Regions from separate parts of the Homo sapiens genome. Here region 1 is linked to region 2. A link means that fine-mapping ties the variant in region 2 to the expression of a gene that starts in the linked region. Tissue or cell type: NK cells. Region 2 holds a variant in brackets; the other region holds the start of a gene. All regions are shown on one strand. Distances are between the middles of the regions.

What was found. PIP is the estimated chance that this variant, and not a neighbour inherited with it, causes the effect.
Region 1: SENP7 starts here. The variant in region 2 is fine-mapped to the expression of SENP7 in NK cells (Schmiedel 2018, PIP 0.95).

The regions. Positions count from the first base shown.
Region 1 is chr3:101,509,553-101,517,643 of GRCh38, forward strand. It overlaps SENP7 (SUMO specific peptidase 7), which reads right to left and starts at 3,660. Exons shown (of 24, transcript NM_020654.5): 1 at 3,539-3,660. The coding sequence starts at 3,578.
Region 2 is chr3:101,397,860-101,405,964 of GRCh38, forward strand. SENP7 (SUMO specific peptidase 7) reads right to left here. Exons shown (of 24, transcript NM_020654.5): 6 at 1,002-1,196. Among named protein-coding and RNA genes, the nearest start is that of IMPG2, 81 kb to the left of the region's middle. The variant C/CA (reference allele first, on the strand shown) is at 4,757.

The DNA.
Region 1 (8,091 bases), 110 kb after region 2:
CCTTCCTCACTCTATACTATTTTTTGTGGGCAATTCCATTCATTCCAATGACTTCAACTAAGATTGCTGCAAATAATGCAGCTTTATCATAACTAATCGTTAAGTTCTCATCTTGAGCTTCAATTATCATTCATTACACTTTCAATGCAAAGCAAACATCACCTGGACCTACTGAAAGATTTAAGAAAGTTATACCATCAGGGACACTAGTAGCAGTAAATGAAGTTAAAACTATAGATTTTGTAATTAGAGACCACATTTTGAATTCTGTTCCTTACTAGCTATTACTAATCTTTATCCTGCCCCTAAATCCCGGTTTTCTCATCTGTAAATGAAAAACAATTACCTTATAAGGCTTTTGAAAATATTGAAGTTTGTGAAGTTCTTAGCACAATGTCTAGTGCCTAAGTACTTAAAGAACATACGTTATCCTTAACTACAAATGAGAGTGACACAGGCCTCCAAGAATGTTGCCTGAAGCAATCAGTTGAAAACTGGTTCAAATTTACTTGACGTTTCCTATTTTGATTCAAAAATTCACTTGAAAATTGCAGTCTATGATTCTAATTTATCTGTGCTGTATTTTTGTTGTTTAACACTTTTAATGGTCATTCTCCCTTGCTCCCAGACACTTTATCATTCAACTTCAGTGAACCTGTCTCTGATGCCAGCCGTTTTTTAATGTGTATCACCATCTAATATACTGCTTTAAATGGTATAGTTATCAGTTACATGAGTTACAAATACATGTGTTTAGCTTAAACCATCTGGAATTGGGTTTCTGCTACTTGCAACTGAAAAAGTTTTGAGCGGTACACTGTGAACATTTTACAGTTCTTCCTTGTTTAGCAGAAAGTTTAGGGCAGCCTAATGTAGTCTCACAGATAAAACTTCAAATTTTGTGTTTTATTTTATCTTTCTACTGCTACCCACCTTCCTTCTACCTCTTCTTCCTGTTTTATTAATCAAACTCTTCTGCATACTTAGGAAACTTTGATGACTATAAATGTCACTTCATGGCCGGGCACGGTGGCTCACGCCTGTAATTCCAGCACTTTGGGAGGCCGAGGCAAGTGGATCACCTGAGCTCAGGAGTTTGAGACCAGCCTGGCCAACATTGTGAAACCCCATCTTTACTAAAAGTACAAAAATTAACCGGGCATGGTGACAGGCACCTGTAATCTCAGCTGCTAGGGAGGCTGAGGCAGAAGAATCGCTTGAACCTGGGAGGCAGGGGTGGTAGATTGTGCCACTGCGCTCCAGCCTGGGCAACAGAGCGAGACTCCATCTCAAAAAAAAAAAAAAAAAAAAGTCACTTCATTTGGGTTCCAGTTAGCAACAACTTACAATGAAATGGCAACTGCATGCCTACAACCACTACACGGAATCTTTCAACCAGCCAATGTTTTATTTCTGAGAATTTATTCAGGAAATTAAATATACGCTATTAAGAAAAGCAGAAGCATACTTAAAAATTAATTAGTGCACATCTTAAAACTAGAGGCATACTGGAGAACAGCTAGGTAACATTAGATTTGGGTATGGATTTTATTATACCTTACTTTTCAGAAAGGACAGCTCCAAAAGAGAGATCACGAGAAAAAGAAAACGCTCTCTAGAGATATAACTAACGTAAATATCAATGTCTTTTAAGGATTAACAGCTTTATTATCAAAATCCACTTCCCACAACTACTTACATCAAGTTACTGTGACAAATAAATAAATCTAAGTGTAATCAGGTAAAAAGGAACGTGACTTGTTGAATTACAAGGCAAATATCTTACCTTCCCTCCTCAAAAATGTATTAAACCTAGATGAAATGCATTTATTTAAAAAAGGTTGTGCATCTCAAAGGAAGATATGATCACACCTAAAGTTCTGTGTTAGGAAGCCCGCAAATGACACCAGCTAAGCATTGTGCGTTTTCCTAATGTGTCCATTTTACTTAGAGGTTTGGTGGGGGGTGGAGACTATTAAAACACTCATCAGTTGGAGGCATATACCTACATGTATGTATAAATATACATATATATCATTTATACATGTGCTTTCAAAGGAAAAAACTATTATCTCCAGAATATACACCAAGAACATCGATAACATTGGTTGCATATGAAAAGGGATTTCAGGTTTTCAACTGCTTCAAGCAGTGTCCCCAGAGATCCATAATCACTCTCCTTTGCAATTAAGGCTGAAAGCAGTTTGAGATGCACTGCCACAGGGCACTCCTAAATAAATTTGGAATTGGTTTTTTTTGTTTTTTTTTTGTTGTTGTTGTTGTTTGATACAGAGTCTCGCTCTGTTGCCCAGGCTGGAGTGCAGTGGTGCGATCTCGGCTCACTGCAAGCTCCGCCTCCCGGGTTCACGCCATTCTCCTGCCTCAGCCTCCTGAGTAGCTGGGACTACAGGCGCCCGCCACCACGCCCGGCTAATTTTTTGCATTTTTTAGTAGAGACGGGGTTTCACAATGTTAGCCAGGATGGTCTCGATCTCCTGACTTTGTGATCCGACCGCCTCGGCCTCCCAAGGTGTTGGCATTACAGGCGTGAGCCACCGCGCCCGGCCAATAAATCTGTAATTGTTAACTGTCTCTGCAGAAACCAACGGTACCATCAGAAACAGAAAAATGAAATGAAATAATTGATTCATTGGGCGTTCGTTTGTGTACTGGACTGTAAGCATATGAGTCCTCGTCCTCTCCTCCTACCATCCATAGGACTTAACACAAGGACTTGAGGACCCCCTAATGGATGAAATGTTTGATAAAAACTTCTCAACTGGGAGGAGCTCTACCTCACGTTTTTATAACTCCACTTTCTTGTTTCCAAGACGTTGTACACAAAACTGAAGATAGTCATTTAAAACAAAGTAACGTCCAAAACAAAAAATATGCTGAAAATAAAAACACAACGAAAGCACGGCTTCAAATCCTTTGTTTGACTTTCCAATCACTTTTGGAAGACGCAGGGTAGGCTGGAAAAGAAAAAGGCTATTAGGCGGGCCTGTTCAGCAGAACGAGACCCGGAGAGGCATTGTATCAAAGAAAAGGAGTCTCCGGTCGCAAGCCCCACCTTTCCTCCCCAGCAGCAGCTACCTGCTGAGGGAAAGAGGAGGGAGAGGGGAAGGGACGCAAAGTCGAGAATCAAAGGAAGAGAGGAAAGTGGGGTCAGGCGCTGAGAAGCCGAAATGAAATTGGAACATTGGTGGAATTACGAGGAAGGCGTGGCAGAGAGTGACAAGCCAACCGGGAAGATCCATGGGCCGATGAGACGCAAGGAGGGTGTTCGCGGGAGGAGGGAAAAAATAAAAGGGGTTTTGAGGTGAAGAGCGCCCGAGGCTTCGATGACAGCTCGGACCGGGTCTTCGACTCCAGGGGCGGGGGCGACCCGGGAGCCTTCCATTGTGCGCGCCCCTTCCTCTCCCCGCCCCCGCCCTCGCCCCCGCGGCTTCGGGCCGCAACCCCAGCTGCCGCCTGCGCCTCCCGTTTCCCCCGGGTAGGAGACAATATGTTCAGCCCTTCTCTGACCCTTTCTCACCGGATGAAGATGGCCGTCGCCCGAGCTTTCTCTTGTCCATCTTCTCCCGCTGCTGAAATTTCAGTTGCAGGCGCTGTCACCTCAGGACCCCTCCGGCTTGGAGAGGGAGGGGGAGGGGAAAGGAAAAAAAAAAAAAAAAAAAAAAAAAAAAAAAAGCCCGCAAAGTGCGAAGCGCGCTTGCGCAAGAGCCGTCGCCTGCCCTTCGACCGGAAATCAGCCGCCCCTCCCACCTTCGACCGGAAATCACTTCCTGGGACTTTTCACTGTGGGCTGCCTCTTCCAGCGTTTTTTTGGTGGCGTTTATTTCATGATCTGAGCCCCTCTGGGGAGGTGAACCACCTGGGTGCTCGATTTTAGCTTTGTTGACTTTGAAGATTAGATTGACAAAAATTAAAAGGGAAAAACAGGAACTCCTCCGGTTCACTGGATCTCGCGAGGTGGCCAAACAACTATGAAAACAAAACGTTAGCGTTTGCAGTATTACATCCCTCACAGCCTCTCTTACATATTTGCCCCCAACGCCTTTCCTCGAACTCAGAAACCAAAAGATTTTAAGATGGCAAAATCACCTAATAATAGCCTAGCTATTAGTTTAGCATTTGCTGTGGAAATATGTCAGCAGACGAGGAAAAATGTCTTAGGATTCCTTTTTAAAATTCGAACTTGTGATTTTTAAAGTTCCTTAAAAGAAAAGCTAGAACTTAATTTTTCAATAACTGAAATGCTGATATGACAGAAAGTGGGTGGCTATAAACTTGGAATTTGTTCAATTAACATTTACCACGATACTTAAGGGACTAATCCAGTCCTCAATGAACTCAAGGTCTGGTACTATTAGCCTGATTATCCCTAATGGTGCATATCTGAATAATTTTTAAATGCACGTGTAAGCTTTCATGACGATTTAATCACAAGTTTAACAAAATTCAGCACAGTGCTCTAAGCAGGGAAAATGTTTCTGGCATGTTCAAAGCCCGAAGGGACTCTGGAAGTAGGGTTTGATTCCCAAGCTGGCCCCTTTATACCCCTAACGCCTATCCCTCCAACCCCCATCTCCCATCCTAACGGAGTCAATAAAGGGATCGGCCCAACTCGTCCACTAGAGCAGTCCCCTTCATCGTGAGTTAAGCCTTCTTAATTATAATGTGGTCAGTCCCCAGGTAGAGGTAAGGCCCCAGGTGTTGTGGGGTGTTGGGCCTGGGGAAGTGTTCTACATGGCAGGAATGACTGCAAAGCAGAAATACTTTAAGTCTTGCTGGGATTGAAGTTTACTGTAAGGATTTCGTTTTATTTGGTTAATTTCTGTTTAACAAAAACATTGCTTTCTGAAAAATAATTGAATTTTCAGTTTCCTCACAAATTAACTTTTTTTTTTTTTTGAGACGGAGTCTCGCTCTGTCGCCCAGGCTGGAGTGCAGTGGCACAATCTCGGCTCGCTGCAAGCTTCACCTCCTGGGTTCACGCCATTCTCCTGCCTCAGCCTCCCGAGTAGCTGAGACTACAGGCGCCCGCCACCACGCCCGGCTAATTTTTTGTATTTTTTAGTAGAGATGGGGTTTCACCATGTTAGCCAGCATGGTCTCGATCTCCTGACCTCGTGATCCGCCCGCCTCAGCCTCCCAGAGTGCTGGGATTACAGGCGTGAGCCACTGCGCCTGGCCCAAATTAACTTTTTTAACTAAAGAACTTAACTGATTCTAAAGTCAAGCTGGGCCGGACACAGTGGCTCGCGTCTGTAATCCCAGCACTTTGGGAGGCCGAGGCAGAATAGATTGAGCCAAGACATTCCAGACCATCCTGGGCAACAAAGCAAGACCCCCCTCTCCACAAAAATATACAGGCCAGATGCTATGACTCACCCTTGAGCCCAGGAGTTTGATACCAGCCTGGGCAATATAGTGAGACCTCCTCTCTACAAAGAAAAAAACTAGCCACACGTGGTGGCGCATGCCTGTAGTCCCAGGTACTCAAGAGGCTAAGGCAGGAAGATCACTTAAGCCCATGGAGTTAAAAGTTGCAGTGAGCCTTGATCAGGCCACTGCATTCCAGCCTGGGCGACAGAGCCAGACTGTCTCGGAAAAAAAAAAAAAAATGACCCGGGCACGGTGGAGCACACCTATAGTCCCCGGCTACTGGGGAAGATGAGATTTAAGGATTACTTGAGTCCAGGACTTTGAGGCTGCAGTGAGCTATGATCGCTACACGGTACTGCGGCCTGGGCGACACACAGATACCCTGTCTCCAAAAAACATAAAAAATAAACTTCCCAGACGATTCTGTTGCATACTCCAATTTGGTAAAACCAACACTTAGTGACATCTGCTTTTTTCTTTTTCCTATCTCTAATATTCTTTTTTCTATGTGTCCTTGCCTCTGGTGGATTAAATACAACTTTTTTGTTCCCTAGGGAGAGGTGAACAGTGAGGAGGGACATTATGTACTTTCATCTTATTTTGAAATTTCTACAGATATAATTTCACAACCACTATTATTTTCTACAATTTACTAAATGGAATTGTAATACAGGCATTATTATTTTTCTAAAAAACTGCATAATTGCTTTCTGTGTTGGGAAAAGAAAAATAGTGCTGCTTTTGTACCAAAACAGTATTCTTTCTTTCAAACATATTTTCTAGAGGTTTTTTGTTTTGTTTTGCTTTCCTAAATATGAAAATAAATGAAAACTTACTCGTTGTAAAAAAAAAAAAGTATCATTAGATATTTTTAAATATTCTGAGTAAAAGTATTCTCCATTCTGTGCTTCTTAATGGCATGGTATATACAAAAGGACCTTGTTCCTAAATATAAAAAAGGATTATAATTACTGTATTAGATTATTACTCTGTAACCAGGGGATTTCCTAACTTCTCAGATTATAAAATTACTTCTTATAAAAGCTTACTAATCACCTGTGAAAAATGTAAATATTGTTAAATGTAACCACTTTTGATCCTAGAAAGGAAAGGGGTTCCTTAAAAATCCAAATACGCTAATTAAAGTTATTTGCATCTATGATTCTGGTGTCCCACCCACCCTCTTCTTTAAAGATAATCACACCTAACCTAGAGAAGTCAAATTCAGAGAGATCGAAAGTAGAATGGTGGTTGCTAGTGCCTAGGATGAGGAGAATGGGGAGTTATTGTTTAATGGGTATAGAGTTACAGTTTTGTAAGATGAAAAGCATTCTGTGGATGGATGTCAGTAATGGTTACACAACAATATGAATGTACGTAATGCCTCTGAACTGCACACTTAAAAATGGTTAGAATGGTAAATTTTGTTATGTATATTTTCACAATTGTTTTTTAAGAAATAACCACACCTAGAACAAGTCATTACAGCTGTGTCACCACCTAATCCAGGATACTGGAAAAGCCTAATTTCAAATTTTCTTTAATGCGTATATGCTGTTCTCCTTTTTTAAAATTTTATTCTGCGTAAAACGACTGGAGTACTTGACATAGGAAACAAAGTGCCTACCAAATGGCCTCACTAAATTTTTGGTAAATGAATGAAATAAAAAGTCAAATACTATGCATTTTTAAATCTTTGGTAAAAACTAATCTTGGAGTGGGAGGAGGGTGAGCGTTGTAAAACTACCTATCAGATACTATGCTCGCTACCTGGGTAATGAAATCATTTGTATACCAAACCCCAGTGACACAAAATTTACCCTTGTAACACATTTGCACATTCCCCCGACCCTAAAATAAAAGTCAAAAAAGGGGAAAAAAAATCTTCTCTCAGGCTCCTGGGCTGCCTCAGTTACTTTGGGCATGCCACTTTACCTTTGAAAGCCTCAACTTCTCCATTTATAAAATAAACATGTTAGCTAAGAATATCAATAAGGTCCCTTCTAGCTCTAACAATCTTATTCTTGAAGGTAAACTATTGAAGGAAACCAGAATGTCACCTCAAAATATGCCTTTTTTTTTTTTTCCCGGAGACTGAGTTTTGCTCTTATTGCCCAGGCTGGAGTGCAATAGCACGATCTCAGCTCACTGCAACCTCCGCCTCCCAGATTCAGGTGATTCTCCTGCCTCAGCCTCCCGAGTAGCTGAGATTACAGGCACCTGCCACCATGCCTGGCTAATTTTTGTATTTTTAGTAGAGACAAGGGTTCAGCATGTTGGCCAGGCTGGTCTCGAACCCCTGACCTCGTGATCCACCTGCCTCAGACTCCCAAAGTGCTGGGATTACAGGCGTGAGCCACTGTGCCAGGCCAAAATATACCTCTTTTATATAAAAATTATTTTTGAGCTGAAGGCAATTAAGGAGGGAAAGCTCGCTCTCTCCTTTTTCTGCCTAAAAGGCAGGACATAAATTCTGTCTAGGCTCTTACCAGCCCAGAAAGCCCCAGACGAATCTGCAAACAAACCTTACTGTATTAGTTTCCTTCTGTAGATTTACATTCCCACAGTTTCTCACCCTTGGAAGCCTAAAACTCTTTCCTTTGTTCTTTCTTCTCTCCAGAAATTTATTGTTCTTCGTTGAAGATACTTACATAAGCCAGAGTTGTAAGCCACTGTTTTGAGTTACTCCGCATTTACGTT
Region 2 (8,105 bases):
TTGTAGCAAATGGAAGTTTATAAATCTAACAGAATGTACTAACTGACCATCCCTAGCTTTGTGCCACAGATTTTTTCTTATTTCCAGTCCACACACAATCCTCTCCTAGAGCTTAAAACAAAGGCAACTTCAGATCTGCATTTCTCTTATTGGCACAACAAGCTACATTTGTCAATGGAATTCAGCTTTTCCATTTGTTAATGGAAAATCTCAAACCATTTTTTTAAGGAATGTGTTCAGCCATTCATTCAAAAACTATTTACTGAGCACTAAGTACTAGTTAAAATTCTAGAGTCTGAATATAAAAATAACGGACAAGGCCGGGGGCAGTGGCTCACGCCTGTAATGCCAGCCCTTTGGGAGGCTGAAGCAGGCAGATCACAAGGTCAGGAGATCGAGACCATCCTGGCTAACACGGTGAAACCCTGTCTCTACTAAAAAATACAAAAAATTAGCTGGGCGTGGTGGCACGTGCCTGTAGTCCCAGCTACTTGGGAGGCTGAGGTAGGAGAATCGCTTGAACCTGGGAGGCAGAGGTTGCAGTGAGCCGAGATCATGCCACTGCACTCCAGCCTGGGCGACAGAACGAGACTCCGCCTCAAAAAAATTAAAGTAAAACAAAATAACAGACAAGACTGAATGGGTAGATGGATAGATGGACAAATAGAACAGAAAAAGAGAGGGCAATAGACTAATGTCAGAGGAATGGATTTCAATTACACCAGACAAACTGGGATACTGAAATAGGTTACCAGATTTTCATTAAGTGTCTGTATCCATTTTTCCAAAATACAAGTATGGTGGCCAGTGCTTCTGAAACACATTATTAGCCATGGACTGTTGGTTCCAATAGCCATTCCAGCCACCCGGGGAGAAAAATAATACCAGCTATCAGAGCACATTTACCTCACATTTAGCAATAATGTATCTGTGAAAAAGAACAGGGAAGGATACATAAAAATAAATATAATTATTTTGAGTAAAGTTATCACTAAACATACCTTTCAGATAAATAACAGCTCTTGTGAGGGTTTAGATTTTGATAAGATTCTAGGCTGCCATCAGATGATGAAGAAAGTTGCTCTGATTGCAAGTTGTCTGTATCACTCAAACTTCCCTCAGTTACAGGTGGGGTCCTTATGTATTTTCTTCCTAACTCCGTTCCCAGGACATTCGTCAATATAACTCTGGGTATCCTGTCACATAGAATAACAAACACTGTACTGTACTGAAGTTTTCAGTTAAAAAAAAATGTATTCCAGGAAGGTGAATTTTCAATCATTGCCATCTTAGCACAAGAAAGCTGTTCGAACTACACCACCCTAGAAATTAACCCATAAATACTTAAAAATTTAGAAAAACACAATCTTTTGGTTTATAGAAGCACTTGTTTCTTATCACTTATAACATAGATTAGCCTGCCACTACAATATCTTTAATTATACTAATGGATGCCATTGAGAGGCTTAAAATTTTAACAAATTCTTCTCTAAAAATGCTTTCTTTCCTTTTCCAGAAATTATTAAAAACACAGCTTACTACAAATCAATTCAAGAAATCTTTGTTCTTCTCATTTAACAGAAATGTCTTTGATAAGTAATTTACATACTTGCAATTGGGAAATGACAAATAATAAATCCAACAAGACATCATTCAGATTGCATCTCTGGTAATGAAAGATTCCGTAACTGAAACAGCACATATAATGGTGATAACATATATGCTAATATGTAATAGCATCAGGAAAAGAGTCAATACATTTAAATGTTTAGAAAATTAAAGTTTTTGTTTAGTTGGTTTTTCTTTTTTGAGACTGCAGTGCAGTGACACAATCACAGCTCACTGCAGCCTCGATCTCCTGGCCCAAGTAATCCTCCTACCTCAGCCTCTTAAGTAGCTGGGACTATAGGCACAAGCCACCACGCCCAGGTAACTTTTTTATTTTCTGTAGTGACTATGTCTCATTATGTTGTCCAGGCTGGTTTCAAACTCCTGGGCTCAAGCAATCCTCCCACTTCAGCCTCCCAAAATTCTGAGATTACACGTGTGAGCCACTGCATCTAGCCTGGACTGTATTTTTAAGTCTCCAGACCTTAAATTGGTGAGTTTTATATCAAATGCACTATATAAGCCTGATATCTTCTTAAACAGAAGATGTACATTTGATATATAAAGAAGTACATTTGGTATAAAATTAGTGCAATATTTACTCTGCTGGCCAGTCATTATTATGAACATTACTTTGCCACACTACAATAATGCCTTCAATATTGATATTCAGCCCAGAATTCACTGGCCCAAGCCAAATTATTGTGATTTTTTTAAGTTCCTGTTATGTAATTTTAAAGTTTTCCTAACTCCTCTTTATTAGATGCCCAGTTGACTGTTATCAATATGCCACTAGCAATACTTTACTTATACTTTGTTTGTAAGAAACAATATATAGAAAGAGCCAGAGTACGAGCATACCTCATTTTATTGTGCTTCACTTTACTGCACTTCACAGATACTGTGTTTTTCACAAATGCAAGGTTTGTGGCAACCTTGAGTAGAACACATCTATCAGCATGACTTTTCCAACAGCATGTGCTCACTTTGTGTGTCTGTGTCACATTTCGGTAACTCTCAAAATATTTCAATCTTTTCATTATTATTATATCTAGTATGATGATCTGTAATCAGTGATATTTGATGGCACAATTGTAATTGCTTTGAAGCACCACAAACCATGCATGCATAAGACATTGAACTTAATTAACAAATGCTGTGTGTGTTCTGACTGCTTCACCTACCAACCATTCCCCTATCTCTCTCTCTCTCCTCAGGCCTCCTCCCTATCCCCTGAGACACAGCAATGTTGAAATTATGCCAATTCCAGCACTACCATGGCCTCTAAATATTCACGTGAAAGGAAGAGTCTCAAGTTTCTCACTTTAAATCAAAAGCTAGAAATGGCTGGGTGTGGTGGCTCACACCTGCAATCCCAGCACTTTGGGAGGTCAAGGTGGGACAATCACTTGAGGCCAGGAGACTGAGGCCAGCCTGGGAAACACGGCAAGACTCCATCTCTACAAAACATAATTAACGAGCCATCCAGCCATGGCAGTACATGCCTGTAGTCCGAGCTACTTGGGAAGCTGAGAGAGGAGCATCACTTGACCCCAGGAGTTCAAGGCTGCAGAGAGCTAGGATTGCGCCACCTCTGTTTGCCTGGGAAAGAGAGCAAGTCCTTGTCTCAAAAAAAAAAAAAAAGAACTAAAAATTACTAAACCTAGTGTGGAAGGCATGTTGAAAGCTGAGACAGGCTGAAAGCAAGACTGCTTGCTGCAGAGTCAAGTTGTGAATGAGAAAGAATAGTTCTTGAACAAATTTAAAAGTGCTACTCCTGGCCAGGTGCAGTGGCTCACACCTATAATCCTAGCACTTAGGGAGGCTGAGGCAGGAGGATCACTTGAGGTCAGGAATTCAAGACCAGCCTTGCCAACATGGTGAAACCCCGTCTCTACTAAAAATACAGAAATTAGCCAGGTGTGGTGGCAGGCACCTGCAATCCCAGCTACTCGGGAGGCTGAGGCAGAAGAATGACTTGAACCCAGGAGGCTGAAGTTGCAGTGAGCCAAGATACTGCCACTGCATTCTAGCCTGGGCGACAGAGCAACACTCCATCTCAAAAAAAAAAAGGAAAAAAAAGGAAAAAAAAGTGCTACTCCTATGAACACACAAATAATAAGAAAGCAAAACAGTCTTACTGATGATATGGAGAAAGTTATAGTAGTCTGAATACAACATCAAATCAGCCACAGCATTCCCTTAAGCCAAAGCCTAACTCAGAGCAAGATACTCTCTTCAATTCTATGAAGACTGAGAGAGGTTAGGAAGCTGCAGAAGAAAAGTTGGTTTACAAGCTTTAAGAAAAGAAGTTGTCTCAGCCTGAGCAACATAGTGAGACCCTGTCTCTACAAAAAATAGAAAATATTAGCTTAGTATGGTGGCATGCACCTGTAGCCTCAGCTACTCGGGAGACTGAAGTGAGAGGATCACTTTAGCCTGGGAGATCAAGGCTGTAGTGAGCCATGATGACGCTAGCTGGGAGGTCAAAGCTGAAATGAGTCATGCTGGGCAACAGAATGAGACCCTGCCTCAAAAAAAAAAAAAAAAAACTATCTCCATAACATGAAATGCAAGGTGAAGCAGCAAGTACTGATGGAGAAGCTGCAGCAAGTTATCCAGAAGATCTAGCTAAGATAAGTGATGAAGGTGGCTACACTAAACAACAGATTTTCAATGTAGATGAAAGATCCTTCTATTGGAATAAAATGACATCTAGGAATTCCATACCTAGAAAGGAAAAGTCAATGCATAAGTTCGAAAGACAGGCTGACTCTCTTGTTAGGGGCTAATGAAGCTGGTGTCTTATCTGTGAAGCCAGTGCTCAATTACCATGCAAAAGATCCAATGGCCCTTAAGAATTATGCTAAATTGGGCCAAGCATGGTGGCTCATGCCTGTAATCCCAGCACTTTGGGCGGCAGAGGCCGGCGGATAACTTGAGGTCAGGAGTTCGAGACCAGCCTGGCCAACATGGTGAAACCCCACCTCTACTAAAAAAAACAATTTGCCAGGCATGGTGGTGCACACCTGTAGTCCCAGCTACTTCAGAGGCTGAGGCAGGAGAATCGCTTGAACCTGGGAGGCGGAGGTTGCAATGAGATCATGCCACTGCATTACAGCCTGGGCGACAGAGCAAGACTCCGTCT[C/CA]AAAAAAAAAAAAAAAAAAATGCTAAATCTACTTTGCCTGTACTCTAAAAATGGAACTACAATGTCTGGATGACTGGATGACAGCACATCTGTTTACAGCGTGGATCACTGAATCACTTAACACCATCTTTGAGAACTGCCACTCAGAAAAAAAATAAATAAAATTCCTTTCAAAATATTACAGCTCGTTGACAATGCACCTAGTCACCCAAGAGCTCTGATGGGGAGGTACAAGAGAATTCGTGTTGTTTTCATGCCTGCTAATAAAACATCCATTCTATAGCCCATGGATCAAGAAGTAATTTCAAGTTTCAAGTCTTACAATTTAAGAAATACATTTCATATAGCTACCACAAACAGTGATTTCCTCTGATGGGTCTGGGAAAAGTAAACTGAAAATCTTCCGGAAAGGATTCATCATTCTAGATGCCTCTGCATAAAACAACAAAGGTAACAAAGTACAGTGAAGTTCACATTTTCACTTAAACAAAAGTATACGCATATACTTGGAGACAGGGCCAGTTCAGTTCCAGACCCCCGCCATAAAGTGAGTATCACAATAAAACACGTCACACAAATTTTGTGGCTTCCTAGTGAATATATAATTATGTTTACACTATACTGTAGTCTATTAAGTGTGCAATGGCACTATGACTAAAACAATGCACATCCCCTAATTAAAAATTTTACTATTTTTCCCTACATAAAGACACTATGTTCATTTCATTATGTTCCAGACAGCATAAAATTTTAGATCCTTGGAGAACTTTAAAATAAATTAGTCCTCTCTTTATTGTAAACATGAAGAACCCAACGCTCAGAAAAGTTAAATAAGCTGCCCAAGTATAAGTAGCTTTCCTAGTGGAAGAACCTGGGCCTGTTATCTTTGGGGGTTTTTTGTCTGTCCTATTACATTATACTACATCCTCAATGCTAATTTGCCAAAGGATTCCAGATAACTGAGATTGCCAACAGATACTTCAGGAAACTCTTGAAAATATCCATTTATACCATAATCAGAATAAAAAGTGCTGCAACAACTATCTAGAAAACCCGATAGTCTCAGCACAAAAGCTCCTTCAGCTGATAAAACAACTTGAACAAGGTTTCAGGATAAAAAAAATCAATGTACAAAAATCACTAGCATTCCTATATACCAACAACAGCCAAGTGGAGAACCAAATCACAAAGGCAATCTCATTCATAACAGCCACAAAAAGAATAATATACCTCTGAATACAGCTAACCAGGGAGGTGAAAGATCTCTATAAGGAGAACTATAAAACATTACTTTAAAAAATCAGAGAAGACACAAACAAATGGAAAAACATCCCAGGCTCATGGATAGAAAGTATCAATATTAAAATGGCCATATATCCCAAAGCAATTTACAGATTCAATGCTATTCCTATCATACTACCAACAACATTCTTCATAGAATTAGAAAAAACTACTTTAAAATTCATATGGAACCAAAAAGAACCCCATATAACCAAGGCAATCCTAAGCAAAAAGAAGAAAACTGGAAGAATCACCTTACATCCCTTCAAACCATGTTATAGGGCTATAGTAACCAAAACAGCATGGTACTGGTACAAAAATAAACACACAGACTAATGGAAAAGAATAAAGAGCCCAGAAGTAATACTACACACCTACAATTCTGTGATCTTTGACAAACCTGACAAAAACAAGCAATGGACAAAGGGCTCCATATTTAATAAATGATGCTGGGAAAAGAACTAGCCATATGCAAAAAATTGAAATTGAACCCGATTTTTACACCATATATAAAAATTATCTCAAGATGGATTAAAGACTTAAATGTAAAACCTAAAAGTATAAAAAACCTAGAAGAAAATTTAGGCAATACCATGCAGGACGTAGGCAGGCACGGGCAAAGATTTCATGACAAAAATGCCAAAAGCAATTGCAACAAAAGCAAAAATTGACAAATGGGATCTAATTAAACTAAGGAGCTTCTGCACAGCAAAAGAAACTATCATTAGAGTGAACAGACACCCTATAGAATGGGAGAAAGTTTTTGCAATCTATCCATCTAACAAATGTCTAATTTCCAGAGTTTACAAGGAACTTAAACAAATTAACATGAAAAAAAGCAAACAATCCCATTACAAAGTGGGCAAAGGACATGAACAGACACGTTTCTAAAGAAGATACACATGCAGACAATAATCATATTTTAAAAGCACAACATCACTGATCATTAGAGAAATAAAAATCAAAACCACAATGAGACGCACAGTGAGAAAACAATGTGAAGAGACACAGGGAGAAGACAGCCATCTACAAGCCAAAGAGAGAGGCCTGGCACAGGCGTTCTCTCACAGCCCTCAAAACACCTTGATTGGATTTCTTGCCTCCAGAATTGGGAACAAAAGGGGATAATGGTGGATGGGAGGCAGACTAGATTGCAGCTCTGACTCGACAGACAGAGCAGCATGTGGAAGCTCGCATCGTGAATTTTTGCTCCAGAACAACTGCAGGAATAAATCAGGAAGCCTAAGAGGACCCACACACCTCCTGAAGGAAGCAGAGTACACCAGCATGACCCAGGACACCCCAAATACTATGCTGGTATCCATGGCTGAGAGACCCATAGATGGTTCAGGTCACAAGACTCTGTGCAGACAACCGCCAGTACCAGCCCAGAGCCTGGTAGAATAGCTGGGTGGCTAGATCCAAAAGAAAGATAACAATCACTACAGCTCCGCTCTCAGGAAGCCACATCCATAGGAAAAGGGCGAGAGTACTATAATAAGGGAACACCCCATGGGACAAAGGAATCTGAACAACAGCCTTCAGCCCTAGACCTTCCCTCTGACAGAGCCTACTCAAATGACAAGGAACCAGAAAACCAACTCTGGTAATATGACAAAATAAGGTTAACACCTCTGAAAAATCATACTAGCTCACCAGCAATGGACTCAAACCAAGAAGAAATCCCTGATTTACCTGAAAAAGAATTCAGGAGGTTAGTTATTAAGCTAATCAGGGAGGCACCAAAGAAAGGTGAAGCCCAGTGTAAGGAAGTCCAAAAAATGATACAAGAGGTGAAGGGAGAAATATTCAAGGAAATAGATAGCATAAATAAAAAACAATCAAAACTTCAGGAAACTTTGGACACACTTATAGAAATGCAAAATGCTCTGGAAAGTCTCAGCAATAGAATTGAACAAGTGGAAGAAAGAAATTCAGAGCTTGAAAACAAGGTCTTCAAATTAACCCAATCCAACAAAGACAAAGAAAAAAGAATAAGAAAATATGAACAAAGCCTCCAAGAAGTCTGGGATTATGTTAAATGACCAAATCTAAGAATAATAGGTGT